Regions from separate parts of the Homo sapiens genome. Here regions 1, 2 and 4 are each linked to region 3. Evidence: fine-mapped expression QTL. A gene starts in region 3. Each other region holds a variant in brackets. All regions are shown on one strand. Distances are from middle to middle.

Evidence for each region.
Region 1: its variant is fine-mapped to the expression of LHFPL2 in whole blood (TOPMed, PIP 0.98).
Region 2: its variant is fine-mapped to the expression of LHFPL2 in blood mononuclear cells (TOPMed, PIP above 0.99).
Region 4: its variant is fine-mapped to the expression of LHFPL2 in whole blood (INTERVAL, PIP 0.91).

What each region holds. Positions count from the first base shown.
Region 1 is chr5:78,503,939-78,512,041 of GRCh38, reverse strand. It overlaps LHFPL2 (LHFPL tetraspan subfamily member 2), which reads left to right. Exons shown (of 5, transcript NM_005779.3): 4 at 1,644-2,258. The coding sequence starts at 1,829. Among named protein-coding and RNA genes, the nearest start is that of LHFPL2, 140 kb to the left of the region's middle. RefSeq lists silencers at 1,641-1,690, 1,971-2,060 and enhancers at 1,303-1,924, 6,664-7,172. The variant G/A (reference allele first, on the strand shown) is at 3,510.
Region 2 is chr5:78,479,314-78,487,419 of GRCh38, reverse strand. SCAMP1 (secretory carrier membrane protein 1) reads right to left here. Exons shown (of 9, transcript NM_004866.6): 9 at 6,681-8,106. LHFPL2 (LHFPL tetraspan subfamily member 2) reads left to right here. Exons shown (of 5, transcript NM_005779.3): 5 at 1-2,190. Among named protein-coding and RNA genes, the nearest start is that of SCAMP1, 120 kb to the right of the region's middle. The variant G/A (reference allele first, on the strand shown) is at 3,244.
Region 3 is chr5:78,644,956-78,653,061 of GRCh38, reverse strand. LHFPL2 (LHFPL tetraspan subfamily member 2) reads left to right here and starts at 4,290. Exons shown (of 5, transcript NM_005779.3): 1 at 4,290-4,563. RefSeq lists silencers at 3,752-4,691, 4,982-5,041.
Region 4 is chr5:78,456,781-78,464,886 of GRCh38, reverse strand. It overlaps SCAMP1 (secretory carrier membrane protein 1), which reads right to left. Exons shown (of 9, transcript NM_004866.6): 8 at 5,525-5,642. Among named protein-coding and RNA genes, the nearest start is that of SCAMP1, 100 kb to the right of the region's middle. RefSeq lists an enhancer at 6,947-7,556. The variant T/C (reference allele first, on the strand shown) is at 3,262.

The sequences.
Region 1 (8,103 bases), 140 kb after region 3:
TGTTCATTCCTTGCAACAATCTGGTGAGGTAGGCTACCCTTACCGGCTCAGACGAGGGAGCTCTGAGAAGTTAGGCATCCATATGGTCAGTGCTGGAGCTGGCTTTGGAACCCATACCTGATGGACTCCCTTCCCTTACCCAGTGCTTGGCACAGCGCTGTGACACACGCACACACACCCTGACAATTAAGTGCATATGTTCCTAGTAGTGCACTAGCTGTGTCCCCAAAATAGCATCTTGTATAGCAACTACCATGATATGAGGATTTTAAAATACATCATGTTTCAAGGGATGGGTAGAGTCACATGCTCACTAGGAAGTCAGCCAGCAGGCAGACAGCTGGTGCAGGGTGTAGAAACGGGCATTTTAAGCTTTGACACTGGGCTTCCTTATTTCTCCGCTTCTCTTCCTCTTCGATAACTCCCTGCCTCACCCCACTCCCAACATGCCAGGGGGCTCTTTGCAGTTCTCATGGAGTTGATTTGACCTCGGTTAATGAGATCTAATCATTCAGAGCAGGGCCATGTGCCCAGATGTGAGCTATGTGATTGTTCCTGGCCTTGGAATGGGGCAGAAAATGGGGCTGCAAACCAGCCCTGCTGGCCCCCATTTCAGGGTCCAGACTCCTCTGAAGAAGGCTTGAGCCACTGGAGCAATGTCTTCTGGTAATGAAGTCATTCCTCCGTGGAGACAGAATGAGGCCTCTGTGAAATGAGAAACAATGGGCATGTTGAGTTCCCGACCTGGGGTGAATCGAAGCTTAGGCAGAGGCACATGGGATGAATTGGGACAATTCAAGGGATGCATTCTTCATAGACAAGGTTCTGTTGTCAACAAGTCCACTCAGTTGTAATGATGCTTAGTTAACGGTCATTAATGTCTTTTAAAAATAATTTCCCCAAGTAAGTCATGAACTCTTAAGGTTTTTTTTTTTTCCCCTCTGAGTTTTAATTAGTGTAAATTATTTTGTCTAAAAATCACCCTGTGAAAAATGGATAAAGTATAGGTATGGGAGCAATGTTTTGTTTATTCTTTTACATGTGATTCTTTCCTATTTACCTATGAAGCAAACACACTTATGTCTCTGCTAGTAATTTAATTTCGAGGAAATAAAAGCGGGGTGTTGCTACTCTCTACTGTTAAGCAAAAGCGCTTGGTCCAAGTTTCTCAAAACTTAGCTCACCTAGTACCAAAACAGCAGGCAAAAAGTCTTGCAAACTTAAAAACAAAACAAAACATCCACTAATAGAGTTGATTGCCAGTCTTGCCTCCTCCTCTCTGGATCCCTGTGCTGTTTGACTTTTTCCAGTAAAAGATGAGGGAGCGGGAGCCCTGTCCTAAAAGTGCAGCAGCAACCAGGACAGTGCCCCCTGGGTTGGGAGCAGGACCTGGCACTGGCCGCCTCCTTCCATGGTGCTCCCTAGAGATAAGGTTAACTGCCACATAGAGTTCTAAGTGCAGTGAGGTCAGGAAGAACTTGAAACAAACGCAGCCAGTGCAACAACCGCCTGGCATGCTAGCCAGGCCCGGGGCTTGCTGGCAGGGTTCTGCGGGCACGGGCCGGACTTGGACGGTGTCGCTGCGCGGCGGGAAGGCGGGGCGGGGCCTGGCGGCGCTGCTAACCGCCCTCCCTCTCCCCTAGGTGAGGCCGCAGGCGGTGCTCTGGGTCCGGGAGCGCTGTCCCCAGCATGAACGCGGCCGGCGGCGGGAGTGAATGACTGCAGCTGCGACTTCCTTCCCGGGCCGCCCGAGCCTCCTTCCCCACCGACTTTCTTGTTTTGATTAACTCCGTGGACTCCTGACTCTTTCTTCGCCCGGAACATCAATATGTGTCATGTCATTGTCACCTGTCGCTCGATGCTCTGGACCTTGCTGAGTATTGTGGTGGCTTTTGCCGAGCTCATTGCCTTCATGAGTGCAGACTGGCTGATCGGGAAAGCGAGGAGCCGCGGCGGCGTGGAGCCGGCGGGCCCGGGCGGGGGCTCCCCGGAGCCCTACCACCCCACCCTGGGCATCTACGCCCGCTGCATCCGGAACCCAGGGGTGCAGCACTTCCAGCGGGACACGCTGTGCGGGCCCTACGCCGAGAGCTTCGGCGAGATCGCCAGCGGCTTCTGGCAGGCCACAGCTATTTTCCTGGCTGTGGGAATCTTTATTCTCTGCATGGTGGCCTTGGTGTCCGTCTTCACCATGTGTGTACAGAGCATCATGAAGAAAAGCATCTTCAATGTCTGTGGGCTGTTGCAAGGAATTGCAGGTAAGAAGGCAGGACCCCGGGCACGGTGGGATGGAGGGATGGAGAGCTGCCGGTGCAGCGCACTCTGGTACTGGGCATTCGCTTCCTGCTAGTTTTGGAGAAGACCACTTTCTGTCTATTCAGGTTTCCTTTGCCCCTTCCGTTCTAGGCGACGTTTGTGTGCTGCTCGCATGGGTCTCTTTCCCCTGTCTTACCCCACAGGAAGACAGGCTTGTTCTCTGGTCTTACGTGGTCCTCCTCATTGCTTATTTCCTCGGGGTCTAAGCTGTTGGTTTTAGTTTGAGTAACTACTCCTGCTTTTTGTTTTTCCCATTAAATTAAAAGCATGCTCTCCACTTCAGTGCAACTCCCTGAGGAATTATGGAGAGCGTGAGTCCCACCTGCAGCAAGCACTTTATGCTAAGAGGAATGTAAGCGGGGGCGCTCATTAAGAAGCAGCAAGCCTGCTTTCCGCATCCACTCTCAGCTCCAGCCCCCAGATGATTTCAGCTTGGGTGGGAAAGACACGGGCTGGGAAGGAATTAGTATCAGCTGCTCTGTGTTTAGTGATGTTCTGGTTTAAATTGTCTGTCTCCTAGAGCCTGACAGAATGTTCTGTGCATTCAGATCAGAAAATGCAAGCGAACTCTTCCATTTTCTGGGAATTTCTCACTAACGAGCTTATTAGAAATGGGTGGAAAGTAAAAGCATGAGCTCTTTACAGTGGTCCCAGGGAGAAGGTTGTGAGCTGCAGGAAAGCATCCACTGCTACCAGTATTTTCGTAGGCTTCCCCGCATGGGTTTGAAAGGTGAGTCCTGAACCAATGGGGTAACAATCTGTCTAGGTTTGATTCAAGGTTCTTGTTCTGGGTGACAGAAATTCACACACAAAAACACATGGCTGAGTTTGAATACATCCCCAAAGAAGTAGAGTAGACTCTTGCTTTGATATTCAGAAAACAAGTGCTTACTTTTTAACCAAGACATTAATCTAGACTCTAACAGGACAAAGTTACCCACCTACAACACTAAATGAAGGGCACAGGTGATTCATCCCTCAGCAAATTCTAGAGCTGTGTGCACAGGATTCTTCAAAATAAAGCTATGCATTGAGCCATATGTCCAGGGCTGTAAAGCAGCAGCCCCCAAACGAATTCACTCTAGCTGGCCTCATAGCAAACTCTTGAGCTCAGCAGGGCTGGCTTCCAAATAAACAGATCAAATGACAGTTTTTTCCCAAACAGCCGATAAGATAAAGTTTACTGTTCCTCA[G/A]ATCTTAGGAGGCCCCTGTGTAGGGTGGAGGTGGGGGATGGGGAGTAATGGGCCAAGAGAAATGACAGAGGGCCTGCTCCTTAGTTCTGATTTGCTTTCATGGGGGAATACACCATCCAGACACCAGGCCCTTTAAACTTTCTGGCCCAAAGGGACAAGTCTCAGGTCCCTCATCTCTACATCTGCCAGGATCAGCCACACCACAAGTGACTCAGGCACTCATGGAATTTGGGAGACCAGGATTCTGTATTTCAGCATTGCTCCTCATTAGCAGTTTCACTTGAGATAAATGTACCACCCCGGGTCTCAGTGTTCTCCTTCTGAAAAATAGGGAGATTGGAAAATGTGACCTTCCTTTGGACTTTTTAGGCTTAGAGTTTGATTCTGTGAAGCTCCTTGTCCCCTTTTGACTCACTTCTGAAGATGACTCTCCCCTTCAGCTTGGCATCTCACCACCCAGAAATATTAAAGGTGGGTTTCAAGATTGATTCATCATTTTCTTGTCAGAGAAATATCCCTGCTTTATTCTCCTTGGACACACGGTGCCTCAGGGGCATGTGTGTGTGTGTGTGTGTGTGTGTGTGTGTGTGTATGCATGTGTATATCTTAAAACTTTTGCAGGGAAGTATTACTGAAGGCTTTTGAAGAGTCAAACATGTAGCTCAAGGGAAGCCAGCACACACTAATTATTAATCCTGTTGAAGAGCCCTGGTTGACCAGAGAGTAGGATTTCTGTTTAGTTTTCCCTCGCTCTGTTGTATTTGCACATCCTTGATGATTTCATGCCTTTATTATGGGCTTTATTGATTTGCTGGTATGTAGATGAGACTCCTGGTTTGTCATGTAGGAGTGCTTCTTATCCTGAGGAACTTGATGGTGATCTAACTACCTTCGAGCAAACCAGTGGCCATTTACTGGAAGGGGTGGGACATCTTGGGCCATAACACTAAACCTATCTTTGGCAGTCATTCAGAAGCAAAGCATAGGTATCCTTCAAGACTGTTTACATGCAGTTTATAATAAGGCGTTAGTTGAGTGAATTCCATGTCTGAGTGTGGATTAGTCCAACATATTTTGGTACTCTGGTGTGCATCACATTAATGGCAAGGTGTTCATTATTGCACAAAGATTAGTATGGCTCTCAGGTATTATTTGAACACTCCAGTGAGTTTTCTTTTTCTTTTTCTTTTCTTTTTTTTTTTTAAGACAGATTCTCATTCTGTTGCCCAGCTTGGAATGCAATGGCAGGAACTTGGCTCACTGCAACCTCCACCTCCCAGTTTCAAGCGATTCTCCTGCCTCAGCCTCCCAAGTACCTGGGATGACAGGCACCTGCCACCATGCCTGGCTAATTTTTGTATTTTTAGTATTGACAGAATTTCATCATGTTGGCCAGGCTGGTCTCAAACTCCTGACCTCAAGTGATCACCTGCCTCCGCCTCCCAAAGTGCTGGGATTACAGGTGTGAGCCACTGATCCTGGCCTCCAGTGAGTTTTTTCTGACTTTTCTCTCTGCACAAGGTCTCTTGGAGGAAGGTTGAGGAGAAAGAAGTGGGAGCACTGCTGAGGGCTGGTGCTGATCTTCTGCCTCTTTCCAGTCTGGAAGCTTTAACTTCCTCCCTACCCCTGTTACTTATGCAGCATCTCAAAAATTCTGAAATTACTCAGAATTTTAAATTGGCACAAGGCAGAGATTCCTGCATAGTTTGACTGCTGTCTAGGAGCCACTGATCTAAGACTAAGTGCTGAAATACAGGAAAGAACTGGTTTCTTTTCTCCTTCCAGCCTAGCATCACCCCTCAGAGAAAAAATCATAAAAAAGAGGGACTGAGCTATCCTTCTCATGATTCAGTGGGCACTTTCTCCCCTATTGGAGGTCTCATCATGCACATCAAGCCAATGTAAAGGGCAGCTGTGGTTCTTGAATCTGTGGCTGAGGACATTGCCATACTGGCATCTGAAAGGGCTGGCTTGCTTTCTCCCGTTGGCCAATCTGTGATAGCCTCTGGTCAGCCCCAGCCTCAGCAAGGACTTGCTGCAGCTGGGAGCATCTGCCTTTTCTCTCCCTATGCCCCCTCTCCCTCAGCCCTGGATCTCTTCAACACTGAAACAAATGGTGAGAAAGGAGGCTGTTGCCAGAGCAACAAAAGGATTCTTTAGAAATACACTCAGGCTGTGTTTGTTCTTACAACTTACATTTTGGCAAAAATGTGACTGGATGAGAAATGATCGTAAGCATATTCTTTTGCTACACCTAATTTTAAGATATAAATAGGCCACAGGCTTGTGTAGCCTTCACTGTCTATAAAAAAACACAGCATAAATAATCAAAATCTTGATATTCTGAGTTTAGAAACTGGGTGTGAAAGAATCTGCTACTTCAATGGAAATCCCAAACTCTGGGCTAACTTAAGCAGTAATGAAATATAATCATTGCCTGTTATGTGAATCCAGATAGCAGGATCTGCCTTCAGGGCACCATTAGGTGGACACCCGGCTGATACTTTCTAAATACTGTGCACATGTCCTTGACATTCAGCACTCACTCAGTAATGAGGGTTCAGGCCTCACCTGAATGTGCCTGTGAAACACGGACCAATTTGCCTCACTTTTCTGAACCATAGTTTTCTCACTTGTAAAATGGGCATAACAATAGGTTTATACCTCAGGACTGTTCTGAGGATTAAGTTAGATAATATATGAGAAAGGCTTAAGCATAGTGCTTAACACACAGTAAATAATAAATGGTAGCTATAGAATCATTATCAAAGTATTTCTGCTTTCTTGGCAAGTTTTAGTATATTATTTGTTTCCCGGATTTGTTGCATTCTACGGAACAGGGATATCTTGTAGCTTTTAGAATTGACCTTACTCTGTTCCAATCAAACACAAATACAGTGTGTAGGGGCCTTCCCTGTCCTTAAGAGCCTGCCTGTGTTGGAGCTCAGGGTGCACAGCAGTCCTGTGGCTTTGGTGTAACCAGGGGTGTCCTCAGATCATTTTTTTAAAAGGCAGGAGAGAGCAGTCAAATTGACAAGAAAACAGAGCTCCTTCCTCCCCCTCCCCTTCCCCTGACACACACATTTTCCATTCCTTCTCTTTCTGGAGGCAGCTTCTAGCCGTTGAGTGTTGATTGCAGGTGGCTTCTGAGATTCTCCTGGCGGAGTAAATCACAGGTTGATTAGTCTTCATGAGGTGAGAACTTGTCCAAGGACTTGGCAGAGGCAGCAACACACATCAGTTTGCATCCCTCTGGGATTCATTACAAAAGCCGGGTGATCAGCCAGCAGGGTTGGCTTTTTGCCAGCTGTCTTCCTTAGGTTGTGACCTGGATGTAATCCATCGTGAAACCATAGAATGCAAAGATCCAGGTTTTCCATGACAACATCAAGCAGTTTGTTTTTGGAAATGCGTGTAGGGCTCTCTTAGAAGTCCATGGAATCCCCAGTGACTCAGGTTTGGGACCGAAGCCATTAAACTGAGCTCAGGATTTGGCTCACTTGTGCTGGCTGGGCCTATTCCACAGGGACTGCCATAAGCATGAGCCACCGGCCAGCTGCCTGCTATCTTCCAGTCTTCCCTTTATGCTGGGCTGGCTCTCACACTCTACTCCCTCCAGCCCTCTGCCTGCATGGGTCTCAGTCCAGCAGGACAGCCTTAGCAAGCTGCCCCACCAGTCTGACCAGATAGATTGCCCTGGGGCTGAACCCTGCCTCTGCAGGGCTGGGGTGAAGGGTGTGTGGTCGTGGGAATGGCGCTGGCAGTGGCGGTGAAGGGCCTGGTGTATGCAGGCTCAGCCTTCTTGGAAGTGAGCAATGATTGAGGGTGAAAGAGGACAACATGAAAAAAAGCAATAAAAGGAAAAGCAGAGACAGACACGTGGGGGTTTTGCCTTTGCTGCTTATATAATTGCTTTTGTCATAAATCTGATGCATGGAAGTATGGGTGGGCATACGAAATGCAGCTGATCACTCTCCAGGATTTGGTATTCTTACTGCTTTTTACACAGGGTAAAAAATCACCTTAAGCATCAAGGTTATGACCATAGCCCAACCCCATGACTGATCTCATGCCCTACTCATTCACTCTCAGGCCCAAAAGACAAGGTCAGCCACTGAGAGGAGAGAAATCAGAACAGGGGCTTGGGAAGCATAGGGAGATGGACGGAGATGCCTGGCACACATGGAGCCCTGCCTCAGAATTTTTCTCCTGAAAAAGTCACCGGGCTTTCTCTGGGGTGGTGTGACCTTGGTTGCCCACCTTCAGAACACCCTCAAAGAGGCATGGGGAGAGTAGAGGGAACAGCCCTTCCTTTTGTTCCTGGTGAGCACAAGGCCCTGAGGACTTCTGGCTGCCAAAGGGAGGCTCTTGGTTTCTGGCTGTCCAGACAGATGATGCTCCACCAGAAGTCAGGTCCAACAGTTCCGTGTCTGAATCAGTTTTAAAATACCACTGATAGGACACATTTCCTAATTCATCAGCCTTTAGTAGTCCCTTGGTAAAAAGTAAAAAAAATGCAGACATGTTATGAGAAGGTAGGTCAGAATTCAATTTCAGTCCTAGGCACTTGTATTGGATGCCTACTATGTGCAGA
Region 2 (8,106 bases), 170 kb after region 3:
ACTTTGTTTTGAAAAAGTACCTTCTGTGGACAAGGTATTGTGCTACCAGCTATACAACCCTGACTTCAGAGTTTGCAACCTTGCCCTGAGTGAATCATGTTAAAGCTGTCTGAGTCTAAAGCACCGTATCTTGGTGCAGAACAGATAATTATACAGAGATGGAATGGGACAACCGCAGTTTTACTACATTCTGGTGTTTGGCCTATATGAGAAACCATCTTCTCACAGATTAAGGGCTAAGGGCAAAAGGGGTGGGAGGTGTGGAACTAGCCTTAATGAGTTTCCCATTCCTGAACCAAAATTCAAAGTGAGTGAGATGTAAATCCTGTGATTTTGGTGAAGAAAAAAACGGGTATCTTCATAGCAGCCTAGGAAACCTTAACCATATCTCTAACACCACACAGAAAGAGGCTGGAGGAGCCACTGGACAAAGCTTCTGTCTCTGTGTGTACATTTATAATGTTCTAACCAAGTCTCAAACCTTGATGAAAAACACAAAATTTTTCCATAAACTTATCAGAAGACTCACTTTTCTTTCTTTCTTGGATAGAGAAACCATTTTCTGACACTAGGTTTACAATCTCAGTGTCCTTACAAGTTAAGTCCTAAGCTCACAGGATCCTCCGAGCATGTCCATCACCTGCTCTTTGGCTAAGGTGGCAGTGTACCTCTAGATCAACCTGGGAACAGTCACAAGGGAGTGTGACTTCTTGGCCATAATAAACTCACTCGATAGTGTTTATGTTATTAATCTGAATGCAACAGAAGACAAAAGCACAGGCATGCACACACACAGAACCCCAAACCACTAAAAACTACCTAAACACTGACTTAGTAAATAGTAAAAAGGTAATGTTGGGACTTTTAAACCTTGAATCCATTAGCCAGGCTTGGGATGAAAGGACCATCTAAAATCATGCTAGTCTAAACCATGCTCTTCCACACAGCTGTTTAAAAACCACTGGGTATGAGGAATATGCTAGAAAGAAATGTTAAAAATAGATTGTTGGCTCACACTTATTTTTCTAATAAATAGGACCATTATTACTACCAGGAAAGTCTTATTTATTTTGCCTGAAATTGGCTTAAAGAAAGTCTCATGACGGGATGGGATGGGCTGCGCTTCTCAATGAACTCTGAGGCAGAAATATTTGCCTTGGATTCTGTGGATTCTTTAAACCTGTGTGCTAATAATTCAAACAATGTTGCATTAATTGTATAAGGGTTTTTGTATAGTTTTCAAACATCTGTGGTGTAATGATCTTTGTTAAACATATATTCTGTAAAGTGCCATAGTCTTTTTTTATGTGTAGCATATTTAAAAATATATATGTATATTATACATACACAAGTTTGTGTGAAAGATGTGCAATAACAAAGGTGTATGTATGTTTTGTTGTTTTGTTTTGGAAACTGGACAGGAGTCAAAACAGGGATGTTTGTTTCTGTTTTGGCAAGGAGAGTTCCACATTTTTGCCTTCATGGCTTATTCAGTAACCCATAATTTTAATGCTACACAAATCTTATGTGAAGAAAAGACTGGTATGAAATCATTTTTTCCTGGGTCTAAAATAATCGCTAGTGTTATGTCAAAGTTAAGCCCGCACGCCAGGCCCAGTTAATGCTAGTCTTTCATGTGAAATGTGAAGCTGCCATGTTGCCTTTTCTCTTAGTAGGATAACTAGTAGCTGGTACATAATCACTGAGGAGCTATTTCTTAACATGCTTTTATAGACCATGCTAATGCTAGACCAGTATTTAAGGGCTAATCTCACACCTCCTTAGCTGTAAGAGTCTGGCTTAGAACAGACCTCTCTGTGCAATAACTTGTGGCCACTGGAAATCCCTGGGCCGGCATTTGTATTGGGGTTGCAATGACTCCCAAGGGCCAAAAGAGTTAAAGGCACGACTGGGATTTCTTCTGAGACTGTGGTGAAACTCCTTCCAAGGCTGAGGGGGTCAGTAGGTGCTCTGGAGGGACTCGGCACCACTTGATATTCAACAGCCACTTGAGCCAAATATAAAATTGTATTTACAGCTGATGGACTCAATTTGAGCCTTCAAACTTGTAGTTATCCTATTATATTGTAAACTAATACATTGTCTAGCATTGATTTGGTTCCTGTGCATATGTATTTTCACTATGTGCTCCCCTCCCCAGATCTTAATTAAACCAGATTTTGCAATTCATTCTTATTCTTTCAAGTCTGAGTATACTGGCTTCAATATGATGTGTATAATCTGATCAAGAAAATACCTATCAATCAGTCAACATTTATTTTAAACACTAACTTACATGTAATATTGATGAATGGAAAAAAGATATTCAGGTATTTTAAACTATCCCATTCACTAGTAACATATATGTCCCTACCCTGGGCTATCTTTCTTTAACGTCAAGTATGTATTTCTTCCTTGAAGAAGCATCAACACAATTGTAAATAGGAAAAAACATCTCAAGTATTGTAAACATATATTTTAAAGTAAAGCTATGAAATATGAAAATGCTCCGAAGTATTAAAAAGGGATTTTCAAACATAAATATGTAACAATGACAAGGGGAAAAGTTAACTGAAAGACACATCCTCCTCTTCCAACAACATCCCTAAAAATAAAAGCCAATGATACGGTGCCATTCCACATCCATGTTTCCTGAAGGTAATCCTGGCCATATAAACCCTCATCCAGAAGAGGTGGAATTCTAATTTATAAACTCAAGAATGACACTAAATGCCCTTCTCAACTCTCAACTCTCTGTATCCCATGAAGCATTTATTATTTCATACCAAAAAAAGGCAGTTTCTTCCCCTGATCTAGGGCCTATGACAGTTGAAATTAGATTCATGTTTTGGTTTCTAATAAAAGCTGACAAAGTTACCCATATCAGTTTAAAAAAACCACACACAGTTTTCCAAATAATCATGATTTGAATAACCCAAGAAAAATTAGAAAATTTCCATTGCTTTTTCAGCTGTTATTGTATTCCCCAAAAGTTAATCCACACAGAGAATGGACCCTGGTTGAATTTTAGCAGAAGCTGGGGAATCCTCCCATGTGCTTCCCCCGCTTCCCATCCTTAGTTGTTATCTAGCAATTCTGCTACTAGGTCCACTTTCCACACTGATCTTTCTGGAACATGCTGCATTCAAATTACACCTACACCCCCTTAAAGTTTTTGCTTAACCAAACAACCACTTACAACGGTCCTTACTAACGTGGATATTTTATGTGGATATTATTTCA[G/A]TAGTTTCAAACAATCTTTTTCAACTCTCAAACAATGAAGGGTAGGGTATCAAAGCAAACTTTACTCTTCAAAGCAGTAAGAACCAATAACTTTATTTCAGAGGCCCTCACTAGCAGCTGAGTCATTTGGCAGAGCCATCCCACTGCTCCCCCTACTACTATCTTCTTCCTTGCAACTTCCTCTCCTTACCCTGAACAGTTGTGCAAGATAAGTCTTGCAGACAAGAACTGCCAATTTTACTAAGGTACACAGGACACAGATAAAAGCACACAAAAAGAGGAAGTAGTGAAACCAAAACCACATGGGAAAGAAAAGTCAATCAAGTAACACATTGCTATTAGCAGCTTTTTAGCTTTTTCTAGCCAAACATCCTGAAAAATTGAACACCTACAGGTAGGCAGTCCAAATGCCTATGTTTAGGGGAAACCACTATGATTTTATTCACAAGAGACGAAAGCCTGAATTAAGGCAGTGATGGTAAAGGACAGTCAATGGGATGAATTCTATGTTAGGGAAAAAGAATGGGCAGGTGACTGATCAGAAGTGGAGAGGAAGGAGAGGAAAGAGTCTAGGATGACAGCCAGGTATTTAGCGTAGACACTGAGTGGAAGGTGATGTGATCACCAAGATGAAGACTCCAGAAGAAGCAGGGACAATGAAGGTGAGGAGGTTCAGCTTAGGCTGCCAATGTAGAAGTCCTGTGTGCAGCTAGGACTATACTAAGGAGAGAGAGAGATTTGGGAGTCATCAATACACCTGAGAGATGGTAAGTGTCCTTAGTTATTGTGCAACTTCTATGGGCAGATACTATGCTAAATACTTCATAAAATTCATTTATTCATCAAAATCCTATGAGATAGAAACTGTTACTATTGTTTTACAGATAACTGTCACTTAAATAACTGAGGTTAAATAATGTATCCCAGGTTAGAAAGCTAATAAGCGGAAAAGCCAAAGCTCAGATACATGTTTGACACCAAAGGCAACTCACTCAAACTGCTATGTTGTTTCCTTCTACCTGGAATGCACAAGGTGGGAAGGCAGCCAATGCAAACTCCTGGGCAATATCTCTACATTGTAAACACTTAGAATAACTTCCAAATAAAACTCCAAAAGGGCCTCACCATCACAACTGATGAAAACACTGCTTCTTCCTCCCTTTCAGAGAAAACACCTAGTGATTTTTCATAATTTTGAAGATGACACCATATGTCTCAATTTATCAATCATGATTTAGCTCAATCCTGAAAACAGACACAAGAAATTCATTAAGTATGTGACAGTGGGAAAATAAATGATAGGCTTTGACAGTTTTTATTGTTTTCTTAGTATAAATAATCTCTCATTCAGGGTAAGCAACTATTATAATCACATAAGAAGCATATTTAACCTAATAATAAGGATTTGTCCTCGACTAAAGTTTCTCCAAACACACAAACGCCAAAGACCCTTTAGTAAATTTACACTGCTGAAGAATGGGCAGCAGGTACTCACCTTTAGGTGGCAGGTGTTAGCATTTGGTCTGGAGACTTCAAAAATATATGTAAAAATTTTTTTTGTTGATTTTTTTTCTAGTATCTGTTGTCCCTAAAGGATGGACATGAATGACTGGAAATGTGGAAGGATGAAAGGGAAGACAACTGGAACGAGGCGGCATGGTGGGGCAGCCACGCTTGGCAGGAGTCAGGGGACCTGCCTGTTCTCATCATCCCTCTCCAGCCCTTCACCACCACCACTCACTGAGTGACCTTGGGGTAATTTCCTAGAACTCTACAAAAACAGAGCCAACAACAGAAATTATATCACAAGTTTGGTATGAAAATTAAGTGATGTATATAAAGCATTTAGTACAGAACACTGGTATATAATTAAGCCCACAATAAGCTATTATTAGAAAAAAACTAAGAAAATACTACCCACCCAGACTAATATCATTTTAAAATTACATTCTATGAAAGGTAACATAACTTGTCGAAACCAGTGTAATTTTACCTGGAGAGACTCAGTGGATTGGCTACCTGAGGCCACCATTTCTTTTTCCATCCTGTTATAACAGAGCATTCAGCTAATTATCTTTACCTTAGAGCTTTCAGGAAGCAGAAGATTTCTCAGTGGATGCAGGGTACTCAGTTACTCCTATTTAGCAAAAACAAAAACAAACAAACAAACCGGTAGCATTGGGTGAGCACATAAGCCATGTGAAACCAGAATGCTCAGAAAAGAAACCTGATTTGTCAAAATCTATTGGGATAAAAGACTTTTTAGAAAAGGAACATCCAATGCTGGCCAAGGATGTGAAGAAAGAGGCCTTTCCGTACATTGCTGATGGAGTTACATATGGATAAAATTTTTCTGGAGAGCAACTTGGCAAAGCACATGAAAGGTGCTTTAAAAACTATGCATAATACCCTTTAACTCAGCAATCTGTCCTAAAGAAAAAACAAAAGCCCGAGTCCCCAAATTTAGCAACAATATATTCCTTGATAAATTATTTATAACTTTAAAACCCTGAAAATCAGAACCTAAAGGAATAACAAGACTTTATGATACATACATATGATGTTAGCTATATAGCTATACTAAATGTTACAGAAATATATTCAGAGATATTAAAATCTTCAATACATATTTATATCATAACTGAAATAAGATAAACTGTTGTGTTAAGATCCTCCAGTTAAAAGTAATAAGAAACCAATTCAAGATAGTTGAGGGAGAAAAAGCGGTAAGATTATGAGGATAATGGGATAAGGGTGAGAAGTAGGGCTCCATAAAGGAAAAGGAAAGCCACTAAGATCTTTTCTATGTCATTCATTTTACATCTCCTGTTATGTCTGTTTCATTCTTCATTTTCATTGCAGACCAGCTTTCTTGGTGATTCCTTCCTCATGGCAGAAAATGGCTACCTCTTATGTTCCAATTCTGGAACAGTAGAGTTCTAGACATATCTACATTCAGAATAAAAAACTGATAAGCCAGGAATGAGTCCACTATGGCCAGATGACATCCAGTACCAATGTGGACTTTAAGGACCCAAAGAAGTGGGGCTTTTGAGGAGTAGGTAGACATCCCTAAAGGATGTACAAGGATGTACGGGGTCATCTCATTTTTAATATTAGGAAGTTGTCTTCCTAGAAAAATAGAAAGATATAAACCAGATTTTAATAGAAGTTATTCATGGATGTAAAATTATGAGAATTTTGGTTATTTCTTTTGCTTATATTTTCTATAATTTATACTGAAATATACATTAATTTTATAAATTAAAAAAGTTAATTTAAAAAACTAAACTATTGCGCCATTATGACATAAAGCTAAGTGAGGGGAAAATAAGGTTTTTAAAAATCCATATTGCTTATATCTCTTAACTAAACAAAACACATATGCATAGAAAAAGAATGGAAGACAATAAAATATTAGCAGAGGTACCCCAAGATGACAGAATTAAGGATTTATTTTTATTTTCTCATGTATCACTTTCTGAATTTTTAATTGTTCTACAACACATTATGTATTGCTTTTATACTAGAAAAAAAGTGTGAGGGATGCATAGGCCCAGTGGGTTCAGTTTTTGTGCAGGAGACTAGAATACTGTAGATACCACAGTGATCACCAGATAAAAGACACTGATTTTTGGTGTTTTCCCCCATCCCCAAAATACCTGAATACTACTACAAACTGCCAACAGTAACAACTACTACAATCATGATTTATCTTGAGAATCACTGGCATACAAAATATTAAAAGTTGTGGAGGAATTCTAGAATTACATTTAAGTAAGCACTGAAAATAACTAGAATTTAAAAATAAAACTTGTATGGTATTATTCTACAAACTAGAACTGTTTTAATGTATAGAAGATAATATTCACAGTAATCTTATATTACTAGGTGGATGATTAACTATTTTCTGCTCCTATTACAGAAAAGATTAAATGGCTTTTAGTGTTAGGAGGGTTTCAGCTACACCATCAGCCATGTCAAGCCCAGAAAGATATGAACTGAAAAATAAATCAGGATTTGGACAAACACAAAGTTTAACACTCACTACATTGCCACATGATAGTTCCCATGTTCCCTTGCCATTTGAAACACGGCCAGCACTAATGAAAATTCTTTTTTTTTTTTCTTGAGATGGAGTCTCGCTCTGTCGCCCAGGCTGGAGTGCAGTGGAGAGATCTCGGCTCACTGCAAGCTCCGCCTCCCAGGTTCACGTCATTCTCCTGCCTCAGCCTCCCAAGTAGCTGGGACTACAGGCGCCCGCCACCATGCTCAGCTAATTTTTTTTTTGTATTTTTAGTAGAGATGGGGTTTCACCATGTTAGCCAGGATGGTTTCGATCTCCTGACCTCGTGATCCGCCCACCTTGGCCTCCCAAAGTGCTGGGATTACAGGCGTGAGCCACCACACCTGGCCAAAATCCTATACATTAAATGTTTGTCTTACCCAAACCCCAAAGTTAAATTGTAAATATAAAACCCACAGCGGGGGTGAGAAAACTGGAGAACAGTCTTTCTCTATTTTCCTACAATCTTCAAATAAGAGGTATCTGCTTATATAAGACAGGTTAGTGGCAATACCTGGCTTAGAAAGTTTCTAGATTTATTTCTAGCTCTCTACATACTGTGATAAAGTCCTAAAGTTTAAAAATACCCACCAATATTACAGGCATGCTGCTTTATAAAATATGCCCTAAAATTCTAGCCAAAATACTTCACTTTCTGTAATACTTAATATGTGAGATAAAACTTTTTAGCTCAATAAAAAAGTATTTAAAACAACTCATGTTTTAAACACATTAGTCTACTCTAAATAAATGTATACTATTGTACTTTAAAATGTATCAAAGTAAGGTGTTTTCTA
Region 3 (8,106 bases):
AGGAAATATAGGGCTGGGCGTGGTGGCTCACACCTGTAATCCCAGCACTTTGGGTGGCTGAGATGGGTGGATCACTTGAGGTCAGGAGTTTGAGACCAGCCTACTGAAACCTCATCTCTACTAAAAATACAAAAATTAGCAGGGCATGGTGGTGTGCGCCTGTAAGCCCAGCTACTAGGGAGGCTGAGGCAGGAGAATCACTTGAATCCGGGAGGTGGAGATTGCGCCACTGTACTCCAGCCTGGCAGCAGAGCAAGACTCTGTCTCAAAAAAAAAAAAAAAAAAAAAAAAAAAAAAAAAGAGAGAGAGAAAGAAAGAAAAAGGAAATATCAATTAATCTCTTAAAGTGGGTGGTGGTGGATTTGGGAAGTAGGTTTTAATGAAGATGAATAGGCAAACTTAAAGTTAATCAATAGTCAGTATGCTGACAATCATGAAAATATATCAGTGCTTTCCTGTCTGTTATAAATGCATATTTTATTTAACTCCAAGCAGATTCTTACTCAGAAAAAAATAGGATGCAAAGTGTTCACATATGAAAAATTGCTAGCCGTGTTGAAACAAGGTACTCTAGGTGGAGTACAGTGTTCAGACATTCAAAGAATAGAGTGATTTGCACAGGCAAGTAAGTTCAGTACCATACATTTTAGCCAGACATCACTGTAATTTCACCGCATGACCTATCCAACTGGCTCAATAATCTTCTTCCAAGGCCTCCTTGTCATTTGACCAAAATGTGCAGACACCCTTTAATTTCTCCTAATTTCCTCTTCGTTTATGCCTTGTAGTGAGTGCTTCTTGAAAATGTGTCTGAAGCACATGATAAAAGCAGGATTCACGATATCCCAAAGTTCCTGCTGTTCTCTTTCTTTCCACAGAACTTAGAATGTACTTTCTTCATGAACTACACTTTTTAGCATCTGTCTCCTTCTCTATTCTTCCCTACTTTGCCATCCCTAACTTCTTGCTTCATATTAAGTGTAATTTATCTGCTCTTTAGACCCAAGTTATCCCATCTGGGGATACATGTCTTGATTTTTGCCCAAAAATCTGCAAACACAGTTTTGAGAAAAATTAGTTTTATATTTTACAGGTAGTTCTCCTGTGAATTCCATAACACAGAGTATTAAATGGCTATAATTGCCCTAATTTACATGTCCCAATAGTAGTTTACTGTGTCAGACACTGGGGAAGATACAAAGACGTAAGTAAGGCTCAACCCTAGTCTTCAATAGATTAAAATATACATGCATCAATTCAAGCTACACACATATGAAACATATATCCTGAATAATACAAACCATCTGGTGATGTGTGTTCAAGTCTCCACAACCCATGAGGGCAGACATTTTTGCATTTCTTTTTGTTCACTGATGTATCCCCAGTACCTAGAACAGCCAGTCCCTGGCATATAGTAAGTGCTCAGTAAATGTGTGGGATGAAGTATAGTCTACTTTTTTTTTTTTTTTTTTTTTTTTGCCGGACTCTCTCTCTGTTACCCAGGCTGGAATACAGTAGTATGATCTCAGCTCACTGCAACCTCCACCTCCTGGGTTCAAGCAATTCTCCTGCCTCAGCCTCCTGAGTAGCTGGGATTGCAGGTGCCCACCACCATGCCCAGCTAATTTTTGTATTTTTTTTTTTTTTTTTTGAGGTGGTGTCTTGCTCTGTCGCCAGGCTGGAGTGCAGTGGCGTGATCTCTGCTCACTGCAACTTTGCCTCCTGAGTTCAAGCGATTCTCCTGCCTCAGCCTCCCGAATAGCTGGAACTACAGGCGTGCGCCACTATGCCCAGCTAATTTTTGTATTTTTAGTAGAGATGGGATTTTACCGTGTTGGCCAGGATGGTCTTGATCTCTTGACCTCATGACCCGCCTGCGTCGGCCTCCCAAAGTGCTGGGATTACAGGCGTGAGCCACTGTGCCTGGCCTAATTTTTGTATTTTTAGTAGAGACAGGGTTTTACCATGTTGGCCAGGCTGGTCTTGAACTCCTGACCTCAGGTGATCCGCCTGTCTCGACCTCCCAAAGTGCTGGGATTACAGGCGTGAGCCACCATGTCCAGCCTTAGTCTACTTTTTAAACATAGAATTAAGTACAGTGTACTCTGTTATCAAGGCTGTTTCTGTAATGAGAGCATGGATAACACAAACTAACTCATTAGTTATTAGATATTAGTAAAATGGGTGGAGTTGTGTTGGTTCATATTCAAGGGTTCCCAGCACTTTAATGTTTCTGCACCACCAAGTAACTACAGCTGCAAAACACAGCAGGGTGCATCTAGTTACAGAGAACACAGGGTGCTGTAGGCCCATTTCACCCTACATTCTTTCTCTTGGATTGATTTGGCCTTGACCTCTCTACCTTGGAAGGATTTGTGGGATGTGGGTTGGGGGACAGGACAGAGAGTTCTCCTCTTATTTGTACATTTTGTGTTTATCTCAAGTCAGCAGCCTCAAACAACTCCCCTTCAACAGTTATCTTCATCTTTTTATAAAAGTAAAGTCGTATATTTACATGTACTATAGTATTTATTAGGAATTTAACACAGTTCATTAGCTCTACTGGTATTTTTTTTGGAATGGTTAGTTTTTGTTAGTGCTGTGGTTACAATGTTACATAGATTCTGAGTCATTTTCTAACCCTACTTTCCCCACAAGCCCTGTTATTTCTAGTGTGTGATTTCACAAAATGGAAAGAGCACATATATCCTTTTAGAGCAAAAATGTGGTACTGCAAACTTCATTTTCAATGAAGATAAGTGGAATTTGGCTGCGGGAGAAGATGAAAGAGAGCATTCCAGCTCTGGGAAGAGCATCAGCAACTCTCGTGTAGATACAGGCATGGATCTTTCTCGGGGGGAGGGGAGGATCCCCATCTAAAGAGAGTCCCAGGCTCTGAGAAGTGCGTATGGAGGTGCAGTTGTTGTATGGTTTTGAACTGATGATTTTTAAGGAATTCAGAATGTTCTCTGGCAAAGTGCCTCAGAAAGCTTCTAGAACAGGAAGTGGCCTGCCTGAGGGGTATTCTAGAGCCATTCACCTGTAGGCCTGCGCATATGGATGCAAGTGTAGAGAGGACCCCAGCAGAGAACCGGTAGGAGGCCGCTCACGCCATCCAGTGCCAGATAGCGAGAACCAGAAAGGCGGCAGTGGGCTTGAAAGGACATGGCACCTGGAAAGGCATTAAAAATGAAGAACTAATGGGACTGGCTACCGGGAGTGGAGGAGCGAGGCCCAAAATTGACTGCTAATCTGAATCTGGGCGACTGGTGGATAGAGGTGTCCCAGACAAGGGGCTGAGAAACTGGGAATGGGAGCATTTGACTGGGCGGGGGGCGGGGGGGTGGCGAGGGGTGGAATACAAGATGGGTTTGCCTAGAGAGGTGCCACGTCCTAACAGTTCAATCACAAACAATACTGGCACCTGAATTCATGGCCATTTAACTCTGTTCTTTGCTCCCAGCCCTGGGGGCGGAGCTGGGGAGTTAAAGCATCCCCTCTCTGGACAAGAATGCCTTTTCAGGCTGTTCCTAAAGCGCCTCCGAAAATCATCCTGAAACCGTAATTTTGAGGGCAGGGAAGCTGAGGACACCAAGCATTCTATTTAGGAATAATCTTTGTGACTGTTGGAATTGAGTTTCCACACCTAGATATTCAGAGGGCACGGGAACTTATGTCCGGAGCCTCCTCTCCGGAAGAGGGCGGCGAGGATGGGGGTCCAGGCGCCCCTTGGCCCCTTTCCCGTTTCGGACTCTCCGGGGTCACCAGACGGCCGTTCTTTCCGCTTGGGCCCGGGTCTGGGGGAACTGCTCCTAGCGCCCCGGGGCCCGCTCTCCGCCGGAGCAGCCTGGCCTCTCTCCCCCGGCTCCGTCAGCGCCGCTCTCCGCCTCCGGCCCTCCCGGCAGGGCTGCTCGAAGCTGCTCCGGGAGCTTCCCCGGTGCGGCCCGGAGGAACCTCGCAGGACCCCGGGAGACGCCGCCGCCGCTGCCCGGCGGGCTCAGGGACCGGTTCCCAGGCCCCCACACCCCCTCTCGGGGATCCCCTGTCGCCGACTCCCTCCCGGACCCGCAGGACACTCCCCTCCGGAGGCCGGGCCTGGTCCGCCCGCCCGCCGCCCCCGTCCCGCCCCGCGCGCCGCGCCGGGAGCCCCGAGCCCGACCCCTCCCCCGGACGCCCGGCCCGCTCGCGGGACGGAGGCGGCGATGGTGACTGGGCAGCGGCGCGGGGCCGGGGCCTGGGCAGGGCGGCTCGGCCGCCTCTTTCTCTCGCTGCCCCCGCCCCTCCTCCTCCTCCCTCTCCCCGAGTGCTAGCCCGGGCGGCCGCCGAGCTTGGCGCTCTCTCGCCTCGCTGCCTCCTCCCCCGCGCCGCGGACCCTCTCCCCTCCCTTGCGTTGCCCCCCTCTCCCGCCGCCTCCTCCCGCTCTCCTCTCGCTCTCCTCCCGCCTCCTTCTTCCAGGCGCGGCCAGCGGGGGCAAGAGCGAGGTGGCTGCGAGGAGGCGTCACTGAAAGCCCTGACTTGGGGAAGGCTGCGGGCTCGGAGCCGGAGACGCCGAGCTGGGGCCGGGTGAGTGGCAGGCGTCGGGCCCGCGCGCGCTGCGGGAGGGGAGAGCCGGTGGGCCCGGCCAGGTGGGCGCCCCGCGCGGGCGCATGGGGAGCCGTTGCGGCCGGCCGAGCCCTGGCTGCTTGAGCCGCGGCTGGCGCGGGAACTTCGCTTCGGCGCCCTGGGAGACCGCGCCGAGCGGTCGGAGGTGCTGCGGGATGGGCGTTGGGTGCTGGGAATGGGAAGGGAACAGCTGCTTCTCAGCGCCGCCGGCGGCCGCAGAAGTGGAAAAAAGTTGTGCCGGGAACAGCGTCTCCTCGGGAAGCCGGCGCGAGCCCTGCTCTCTGGGCGTCGCTGGCGGGCTTCGGACGGCGGCGCGTGGGTCCCAGGCGCAGCTGGGCGCCGGGTTCCAGCGCGCCTGGCACCGCTCCCTGGGGGCCGCCCCGTGGTCGCCCCTGCTGTCCCTGGTCCGTGGCGTGTGGGTCACTCTGGCCACAGACGTCAGCTGCTTCTCAAATCTGGACTGCATTTTTGTGGGCAGCTCAGTGATTTGGGGTGCGGGCTGGAAGAGGTGGGCGTGGAGTGGGGAAGACCGCATCTGGGATGGGCGGCTTGAGCCCACGGGCTGGGCAAAGGACTGGGGAGACTCTGCGTGTGTTTCTGGATGTTTTTAGGCACACAGTTTTTTTTTTTCTTTTCCCTTCCATTCAGCGGCCCAGTGTTCTTCGAACTTAGAAAAGCAAAGGATTTTCTTCAATCCCGTTCGACTTTTCTGTTATTTCAGGATGGTCATGAGTTCCATGAAAGTCCATGTGCTTGTTTCAATGGGAGCAACACCAGAGTAAAGACAAAGTCCTATCCCCACCCCCGTCCTCGCCTCCACCCGGGCCATTTCCTGTATGTCCCATTTTCTCTGTTGTGATTGTGCGAGTGTGTTTGTGCATGTAGGTTACCATCGGTGGGTGACCTACGTGGAAAGGAGAACTCTTTGAAATTGCAACGCGGCCGCTATGGAAAGTGTGTGCTGGAGCCGAGGGAGGAAAGATTCCGGCGAGCCAGAGCTGTTAGAGGCTCACCCCAGAGAGGTAAACCGGAGTAACTGAGCTTGAAGGGACATTTATAACCTGCACATTGCTTTTGCCTTACCCCTTGGCCAGAGAGCTCCACTCCTGCTAGGTTTAAGAGAGGATCAGATACTGACTTCTTTGATGTTGACTTTTGCTGGTATTCCTGATTCTTTCCTACTGGTTCTCTTTTAGAAACTACTCCTTTTTAAATTTAAGAGATAGAGAACACATGTTCGCGGGAAGAGGAAATGTTTTTTAAGATAGGAAAGAGAAATAGAATCCAAGAGTCTCATTTCTTTTTGCTGTCATACTGTGATAAGCTTATTGATCTGTTAGAAATCTGATTCTGATTTTGAAGTAATATCAGATAAAACACTATCTTATAATAGTATTTTTCTCTAAGTGGTCACATGGAGAGCAGACTGTGGCTTCTTGTGGTTTGCAAAGGGTGCAGCAAACATTTTATATCAGGAAAAAGACATTGTGTGTTGTAGGAGAGGGGGATGGGGAGGGGCAGTCATTTGTCTTCAGAGCAGCCTAATTAGGAAGAATAATTACACTGCAAATGAACATTGTTGAATATAAATTGAGTCATGATATGTGAACCAGTCATTTGTCTATAGGAAGGAAGAAGGATTTTTGTAGATGAGAACAAAGCAGTGCCTTCTGGAAGAAGTAATGTATGCTGTTCACCGTATGCATGGGCTCGGTGTTGATGGCACCCAGTGTTTGGGCAGGGAGGAAAAGTCCATAGTAGGAGATGATAGAAAAACAATATATAAAAAACTACATATTTATTTTTAATGAACACTATATACAGCTTCTCAACTTCTTTACTGCAAAGAATTGATGAAGTGGTAAACCCAAATATAGGAGACCCAAATTTGGGCTATTGGGCTCCCAGATGTACCTAAACCTTGGGCATGTTATTTAATTTCTCTGTTTCTGTGTCTATAAAATGGTGATGATAATAATTCAGCTCGGATAATTCCCTTGAAGATTAACTGATTGCTTTTGTGCAGGACTTAGGATGGTTCCTCACGCTAAGTGCTCAGAAAGTGTTACTGATGATTATCAGGTATTCCAAATCCCTAGGAAAAAGTGGTGCCTGTTAAACAGCTATAATGCAGAGATACCTGGTTTTAGAGTCAGTGGCTCTGAGTTGAGTCTGGACCCATGCCCTGCCAGCCTACACTCAAAAACACTGATCTTTCTGGAACTTGCAAGCTGCATCCTTTTGGCTCATTCTGATTAGCCTTTTCTGGGCCTCCATTTCCAGGGAGTTTGTAGTGCAGGCAGTATTTGGGTCTAGAGGTAGAACCCAGATGTGGCTTGCAATTCCAAGCTACATGTCCTGTTGCAATGGCAGCTTCAGGTATTAGGTCCCACCAAAGTGAATATCCAAATTTTATTTTAGGTAGAAAGAAAACTATAGTAATGAACATGATAAGTGCCTCTCTTGGGACTCTTAAAAGCAACATTTTACCCAATGCTTACTGCTCTTAGATACAAACAAGAAGCAAATAGCTGATCTCTAGAATTTACTCCAAAAAGCTTTAATATATGCCTTGGGGGCTGGGCCCACAGTGGCTCACACCTGTAATCCCAGCACTTTGGGGGGCTGAGGTGGGTGGATCACGAGGTCAGGGGTTCGAGACCACCCTGGCCAACATAGCGAAAGCCTGTCTCTACTAAAAAGACAAAAATTAGCCGGGTGTGGTGGCATGCATCTGTAGTCCCAGCTACTCAGGAGGCTGAGGTAGGAGAATCGCTTGAACCCGGGTGGCGGAGGTTACAGCGAGCTGAGACGGCACCATTGCACTCCAGTCTGGGTGACAGAGCAAGACGCTATCTCAAAAAAAATGTGTGTGTGTGTGTGTGTGTGTGTGTGTGTGTGTGTGTGTGTGTGTGTATGCATCTGTCTGTCTATCTTGGGGTTAATGATGCAATTCCCAGTTTTTGCTAAGATTGTGCCCAAGAGAAAAGTGAACTGAAGACATTCTTAGCACAATAGTACTTCTTGAGAAGAAGAACTCTGCTAATTTAGGGAGAGTGCCTGTTTGTTCCTTCATTTATCCAGTCATTCAGCAAATACCTAGGGAGCCACTCCCTTGGGCCAGGCTCTGTTCTGGGCTCTGGTAACACAGCAAGTACCAAGAGTAGGCCTCTACTCTTACAGAGTACACATTAGAAGAAAAAAAAAAAACCCATACACCTCTGTTTTCAAAGGACTTCCATAGACCCTGGAAGCTCCCTTTTTGACTCAGAAGAGCTGTACTGGAATGCAGCATGTTGGGTGTCCTTGCCTTCCACTCTCCAGCCTGGTCAGAGGGAAGTGATCTGGCTGGGGCTGGGGGTGGTAGCAGGGTATGGCTAGTCCTGTGGGTCTTCCAAAGGGAGAAGGGGAGGCCTATTTGTTTCTGTACTTTAGAAAGTATTCAGTTTTAGTGGCTGAGCACAACTACTGGCCAGTGAATCAAATTGTTTCGCATGCAATGAA
Region 4 (8,106 bases), 190 kb after region 3:
GTCACCATTAGCCCTTCTTCCCACCACCACTATAATCCCAATCTGTGATTCTCCGAGAGGACAAAATGGCATAATACTGGTGAAGTGTTCTGCATAGGGCCCAGAGTATGGCTGAGCAAAATAAAAGTGATTTCATCATTAGGTTATTAAGGCCCATTTGATGGCTTTATGGCATGTAGTGTGTTTTTACAACCTTAGCAATGCTGGTGTTTCTGAATGTAGCCCTTCTTCGCACTGCCACCAAAATGCCGTTCCCAATCCCAGATCCACGTCAAAAATCTGCAGAGTGCCAATTTGTTGGGGTTTTTTTAAGGTTAATATAGGAATTATATATTAAATGGACTGCGAGAAGGATGAGGGAATATAAGTAACCTGTAAAAAGAATTTCTGGATTAGCTGAGGTTGGAAATGGAAAAGATACTAAAAAGGTATCTAAGAAAGTGAATTAAAAAGTAATGGAAGTGGCTGTGCGTGGTGGCTCATGCCTGTAATCCCAGTAGGCAGAACACGAGGTCAGGAGATCAAGAGCATCCTGGCCAACATGGTGAAACCCTGTCTCTACTAAAAATACAAAAATTAGCCAGGCATGGTGGCACATGCCTGTAATCCCAGCTACTCAGGAGGCTGAGGCAGGAGAACTGCTTGAACCAGGGAGTTGGAGGCTGCAGTGAGCAGAGATCACGCCATCACACTCCAGCCTGGTGACAGAGCAAGACTCTATCTCAAAAAAAGAAAAAAAAAAATAGCTGAGTGTGGTGGCGCATGCCTGTAGTCCCAGCTACTTGGGAGGCTGAGTCAGGAGAATCGCTTGAACCCGGGAGGCGGAGGCTGCAGTGAGCCAAGATCGCGCCACTGCACTCCAGCCTGGCGACAGACAGATTCTGTCTCAAAAAAGAAGTAATGGAAGCACTGACAGAAGCAATCACAGCACTGACAAAAATGTTCAATGGAATTACATAAAGTGCTTAGTGCCATCTCATTAGTAGGTATTCAATAAGTGTTTCTTCAAAAAAAAAAGCTTCATTAAGATAAAATCTGTATACTATGCATTTTACCCTTTAAAGTGTACAATTCAATGATTTTTAGTATATTCATAGAGTTGTGACTATAATATCTACACAACCTAATTTTAGAATACTTTCATTACCCTCACTCCCCACCCCACCCATAAGCCACAGGCAAGCTGTAATACATTTTCTGTCTCTATATATTTGCCCATTTTATACATTTCACAATAATGGAATCTATACAATATGTGGTCTTAATAAATGCTTCTTGAATATTACTCAGAACGTTCAAAAGGAACATCTATCACTAAGAAACTGAAGAGTTTATGAGGCATTACTGTGAGAAGATGACATCAATCAACAACTGGAGATGAAAATGACCAATTGAAGATGCAACTAAAGGTTTATGCAATGCATTATCTTTTCCAATTCCAAGATTCTAGGTCATCTAGGTAGAGAAGAAACTGAAATAATAAGGGAAGATGAAATTCCCAAAGAAAATGACTGCATAGCACAAAGAGCCGATTACATTTAAGACCTTAATTTATGAACTGGATGAAGAAATGGAGGAGAAAGAATAGCCAGAGAGTCAAGAGAATTAGAACATCATTGCAAAGTCTTAGCAGAGGAGCCATCTGTGGTGTAGAAAGCTACAGAGGTTAAGGAGGAGGAAAACTGGAAAAGGGATTTAGTAACATTAGAGAGCTGAGTGTCAATGGTATGTGTGTTTGGTGCAGAAGAGAAGTTAAAAATTTCAAATAGAGAAAATATGGAAGAACGGACACAGTCTAACCTTCGTAGGGTTTTGAGAAGGATAAAAGACAAATGTCTGAGTAAAGTACTGAAAGAGTAAAAGTGGTTTTAAATATAAGGTAAAATTATTTCTATGCATTCCTCATACATAGTCTCAAGTAATGAAATGGTAAAAAAAATTATAAGGACTTATTTTCTTTAAAGTGAGACCTATCAAAAAGTCTTTTTCATTTAAAACATAGGTGTTATTCCCAAGGTCTCAATATCATGTTTGAATACATATAAAATATATCAAAATTACATATATCCAAGACAAAATAAAACTTTAAATAAACAAATAAAAACACTAATTTACCTTCCTCTATGTAATGATTTTTTTTTTAAAGCTGTGAAAACAGACATGGGAATTCTACAGGAAGAAGTGTAGCTAAAACAACTGGGCAGTTACAAATCCTAAATGACTCCTAAACCTGATAACTAACTTGAGTAAAGTTTCAAGATACAGACTGGGTGTGGTGGCTCACACCTGTAATCCCGAACTTTGGGAGGCCAAGGCAAGTAGATCACTTGAGGTCAGGAGTTACAGACCAGACTGGCCAACATGGCGAAATCATCTCTACTAAAAATACAAAAAAAATTAGCCAGGTGCCACATCTGTAATCCCGACTACTCAGGAGGCTAAAACATGAGAATTGCTTGAACCCAGGAGGTAGAGGCTGCCGTGAGCCAAGATCACACCACTGCACTCCAGCCTGGGCAACAGAGTGAGATTCTGTCTCAAAAAACCAACAAAAAGTTTCAAGATACAAAATCAACATACAAAAATCAGTAGCATTTCTAAACACCAACAACGTTCAAGCTGAGAACCAAATAAAGAACCCAATCCCATTTACAATAGACACACACACACACACACACACACACACACACTCCTACACACATCCAGAATACATTTAACTAAGAAGGTGAAAGAACTCCATAAGAAGAATTGCAAATCACTGATGAAAGAAATCACACATGACACAAAGAAATGGAAAAACATCCACATTCATGGATTAGAAGAATCAATATTGTTACAATGACCATACTGTCCAAAGCAATATATAGATTCAATACAATCCTATCAAATTACCAACATCATTTTTCACAGAAGTAGAAAATACAATTCTAAAATTCATATGGAACCAAAAAGAGTCTGAATAGCTAAAGCAATCCTAAGCAAAAAGAACAAAGCCAGAGGCATCATATTGCCTGACTTCAAACTATAGTGCACAGTGGCTCACACCTGTAATCCCAGCACTTTGGGAGGCTGAGGCGGGCGGATCACTTGAGGCCAGGAGTTAGAGACCAACCTGGCCAACATGGTGAAATCCCGTCTCTGCTAAAAATACAAAAATCAGCCAGGCATGGTGGTTCACGCTTGTTAGTCCCAACTACTTGGCTGTCTGAGGCATGAGAATCACTTGAACCTGGGGAGGCTGAGGGTGCAGTGAGCCGAGAT[T/C]GTGCCACTGCACTCCAGCCTGGGCGTCAGAGCAAGATTCTGTCTCAAAAAAGAAAAAAGACTATGGTAAGCAAGCAGCATGGTAACCAGTACAAAAACAGACCAATCGAACAGAGAACCCAGAAATAATGCCACACACCTACAACCAACTGATCTTTAACAAAGCTGACAATAATGAACAATGGGGAAAGGACACCCTATTCAATAAATGGTGCTGGGTAAACTGGCTAGCCACATGCAGAAGAATAAAATTGACCCCTACTTCTCACCACATACAAAAATTAACTCAAGATGGATTGAAGACTTAAATGTAAAACCTCAAACTACAAAAATCCTAGAAGAAAATCTAGGAAATACTCTTCTAGACATTGGCCTAGACAAAGAATTTACTACTAAGACCTCAATAGCAAATGGAACACAAACAAAAATTGACAAATGGGACTTAAAGAGCTTCTGCATAGCAAAAGAAACACTAAACAGGCTGGGCGTGGTGGCTCATGCCTGTAATCCCAGTACTTTGTGAGGGCTGATCATTTGAGGTCTGGAGTTCAAGGCCAGGCTGGCCAACATGGTCAAACTCCATCTCTACTAAACATATAAAAATTAGCCAGGCATGCTGGTGCACACCTGTAATCCTAGCTACTCAAGAGGCTGAGACAGGAAAATTGTGTGAACACGGGAGGTGGAGATTGCAATGAGCTGAGATTGAGCCACTGCACTCCAGCCTGGGTGACAGAGTGAGACTCTCTTTCACAAAAGAGACAGGAAGACAGAAAGAGAGACAGATAGAGGAAAGACAAGAAAGGAAGGAAGGAAGGGAGGAAGGAAGGAAGGAAGGAAGGAAGGAAGGAAGGAAGGAAGGAAGGAAGGAAGGAAGGAAGGAGAAAAGAAACCAAAAGAAAGAAAGAGAGAATAAACAGAGTAAAGAGACAATCTACAGGATGGGAGAAAATATGTGCAAACTATGCATCTGACAAAGGACTAATATCCAGAATGTATAAAGGACTTAAACAAATCAACAAGAAAAAAAAAACCCCATTAAAAAGTAGGCAAAGGATATCAACAGACACTTCTTGAATGAAGACATACAAGCAGCCAACAAATGGAAGAAAACTCAACATCACCAATCAGAGAAATGCAAATCAAAACCACAATAATTCCCATCTCACACCAGTCAAAATGGCTATTATTAAAAACTCAAAAAACAACAGATGTTGGCAAGGATGCAGAGAAAATGGAATGCTTATATACCGTTGACGGGAATATAAATTTGTTCTACTTCTGTGGAAAACAGTATGGAGATTTCTCAAAGAAGTAAAAATAGACCTTCCATTCAACCCAGCAATCACCCTATACTGGGTATCTAACCAAAGGAAAAGAAATCATTTTATCAAAAAGACACCTGCACTCATATGCTTATTGCAGCACTAGTCACAATAGCAAAGTCACAGAATCAACCTAAGCGTCCATCAATAGTAGACTGAATAAAGAAAATGTGATACATATACATCACGAAATACTACACCACCTAAAAAATGAAATTATGTCCTTCGTAGCAACATAGATGCAGCTGCACGCCATTATCCTAAGTGAATTAACACACTAACAGAAAATCAAATACTGCATGTTCTCACTTAGAAGTGGGAGCTAAACAAAGGGTTCACACAGACATAAAGATGGAAACAGACACCGGGGACCCAAAAGGGAGGGAGGGAGAAGAGCAAAGCTTGAAAAACTATCGGGTACTATGTTCACTATTTGGGTGATGGGTTCAATAGAAGCCCAAACCCCAGCATTATGCAACATAACCATGTAACAAACCTGCACATGTTCCCTCTGAATTTATAATAAAAAATTAAAAAACAAAACAAAAACCTAAGAGATATATATGAATAAAATGTACATATCACATAATAATTTTACTTCTATTTATTAACAGGCTAATATCCTTCATATCAAAAAAAAGAAATTTAGAGTATATTTAAAAATCCAAATTTTAAAAATGAGGCTGACTCTTTAACTCATGAAAGCCTTCAGTTAAAATGATTTTAAAATATTCCCTTTTTACTGAAGTTTAAAATGTGATGCAATTTTCTAAAATGTACTTATGCATAACTTTTAATTGTAAAAAGTAATCCTCAGAGAGCAAACTCATACAATAACGATAAAATGGCTTCAGGTTACACCAAATTATAGCAAAATAGGAAAATGAGAACTTTACATCACGTTCACTATAAAAATTTAGACATAAAATTTCACTTACTTTTTTGAACATAACTAGTGAGATGACTGCTGATGCTGTGAAAAGTGCTGCTATGATTATCATCATGATTCCAACAGGAATATTTTGGTTGAGACCAGTAAGGGATGAAATCCAACCACTAAAAAGTAATAAAAAGTGTAATTAGGCAAAAGTTGATGTAAACTTTTTAAAAATAGCATAATATCTAACACATATTCAACACTTATCAGCCAGGCAATATTCAAGTTCTTTATGTGTATTAGTGCATTTAATTCTCACAACCCACCCAATAGGATAGATGCTGTTTTAAATCCCCATTTGACAAATGAGGAACTGAGACATTCAGTAATCTGCCCGAGGTCACACAGCTTATAAATGGCATAGTCTAAATTCAAAAGCAAACCAAACTCCAGAGTCTCAAGTGTTTAATTCCAGACTGTACATTTTTTAAGCTGTACATTTTTTAAGCTTATGAGTTTTGAATTTATTATTACTCTTTTTTTTGAGACAGAAGCTCGCTCTGTTGCCCAGGCTGCAGTATAGTGGCATGATCTCGGCTCATTGTAATCTCCGCCTCCTGGGTTCAAGCGATTCTCCTACCTCAGCCTCCTGAGTAGCTGGGATTACAGGTGCGTGCCACCACGCCTGGCTACTTTTTGTATCTTTAGTAGAGACGGGGTTTCACCATGTTGGTCAGACTGGTCTCGAACTCCTGACCTCGTGATCCACCTGACTCGGCCTCCCAAACTGGGATTATAGCGTGAGCCACTGCACCTGGCCTATTATTACATTTTTTTAAATGTTTATTTTCAATTCTGCTGAATTATGAAAGAAGATATTTATAAACCATATATCCAACAAAGGATTCACATCTAGAATATACATAACTTTCAAAGCTCAACAGAATACAAAAATTAAGAAAATGGATAAAAGACATGCAGAGACATTTTACTAAGAGGACATAAAGACGACAAATAAGCACATGAAAAGATGTTCAAAACCACAATGAGATATCACTACACACCTATTAGGATGGCTAAAATAAAAAGTAATAACCACTAAATGCTGGTGAGGAAGTGGAGACTAAATTGCTCATAATTGTTGGTGGGAGTGTAAAATAGCACAAGCATTCTAGAGAACAGTTTGTCTGTTTCTTTAGAAAACTAAACATGCGGAGAGGAGCCAAGATGGCCGAATAGGAACAGCTCCGGTCTACAGCTCCCAGCGAGAGCGACGCAGAAGACGGGTGATTTCTGCATTTCCATCTGAGGTACCAGGTTCATCTCACTAGGGAGTGCCAGACAGTGGGCACAGGTCAGTGGGTGCGCGCACCGTGCACAAGCCGAAGCAGGGCGAGGCATTGCCTCACTTGGGAAGCGCAAGAGGTCAGGGAGTTCCCTTTCCGAGTCAAAGAAAGGGGTGACAGACGCACCTGGAAAATCGGGTCACTCCCACCCGAATATTGCGCCTTTCGGACCGGCTTAAAAAATGGCGCACCACGAGATTATATCCTGCACCTGGCTCGGAGGGTCCTACGCCCACGGAGTCTCGCTGATTGCTAGCACAGCAATCTGAGATCAAACTGCAAGGCGGCAGCGAGGCTGGGGGAGGGGCGCCCACCATTGCCCAGGCTTGCTTAGGTAAACAAAGCAGCCGGGAAGCTCGAACTGGGTGGAGCCCACCACAGCTCAAGGAGGACTGCCTGCCTCTGAAGGCTCCACCTCTGGGGGCAGGGCACAGACAAACAAAAAGTCAGCAGTAACCTCTGCAGACTTAAATGTCCCTGTCTGACAGCTTTGAAGAGAGCAGTGGTTCTCCCAGCACGCAGCTGGAGATCTGAGAACGGGCAGACTGCCTCCTCAACTGGGTCCCTGACCCCTGACCCCCGAGCAGCCTAACTGGGAGGCACCCCCCAGCAGGGGCACACTGACACCTTACACGACAGGGTATTCCAACAGACCTGCAGCTGAGGGTCCTGTCTGTTAGAAGGAAAACTAACAAACAGAAAGGACATCCACACCAAAAACCCATCTGTACATCACCATCATCAAAGACCAAAAGTAGATAAAACCACAAAGACGGGGAAAAAACAGAACAGAAAAACTGGAAACTCTAAAACGCAGAGCGCCTCTCCTCTACCAAAGGAACGCAGTTCCTCACCAGCAACGGAACAAAGCTGGATGGAGAATGACTTTGACGAGTTGAGAGAAGAAGGCTTCAGACGATCAAATTACTCTGAGCTACGGGAGGACATTCAAACCAAAGGCAAAGAAGTTGAAAACTTTGAAAAAAATTTAGAAGAATGCATAACTAGAATAACCAATACAGAGAAGTGCTTAAAGGAGCTGATGGAGCTGAAAACCAAGGCTCGAGAACTACGTGAAGAATGCAGAAGCCTCAGGAGCCCATGCGATCAACTGGAAGAAAGGGTATCAGCAATGGAAGATGAAATGAATGAAATGAAGCAAGAAGGGAAGTTTAGAGAAAAAAGAATAAAAAGAAATGAGCAAAGCCTCCAAGAAATATGGGACTATGTGAAAAGACCTAATCTACGTCTGATTGGTGTACCTGAAAGTGATGGGGAGAATGGAACCAAGTTGGAA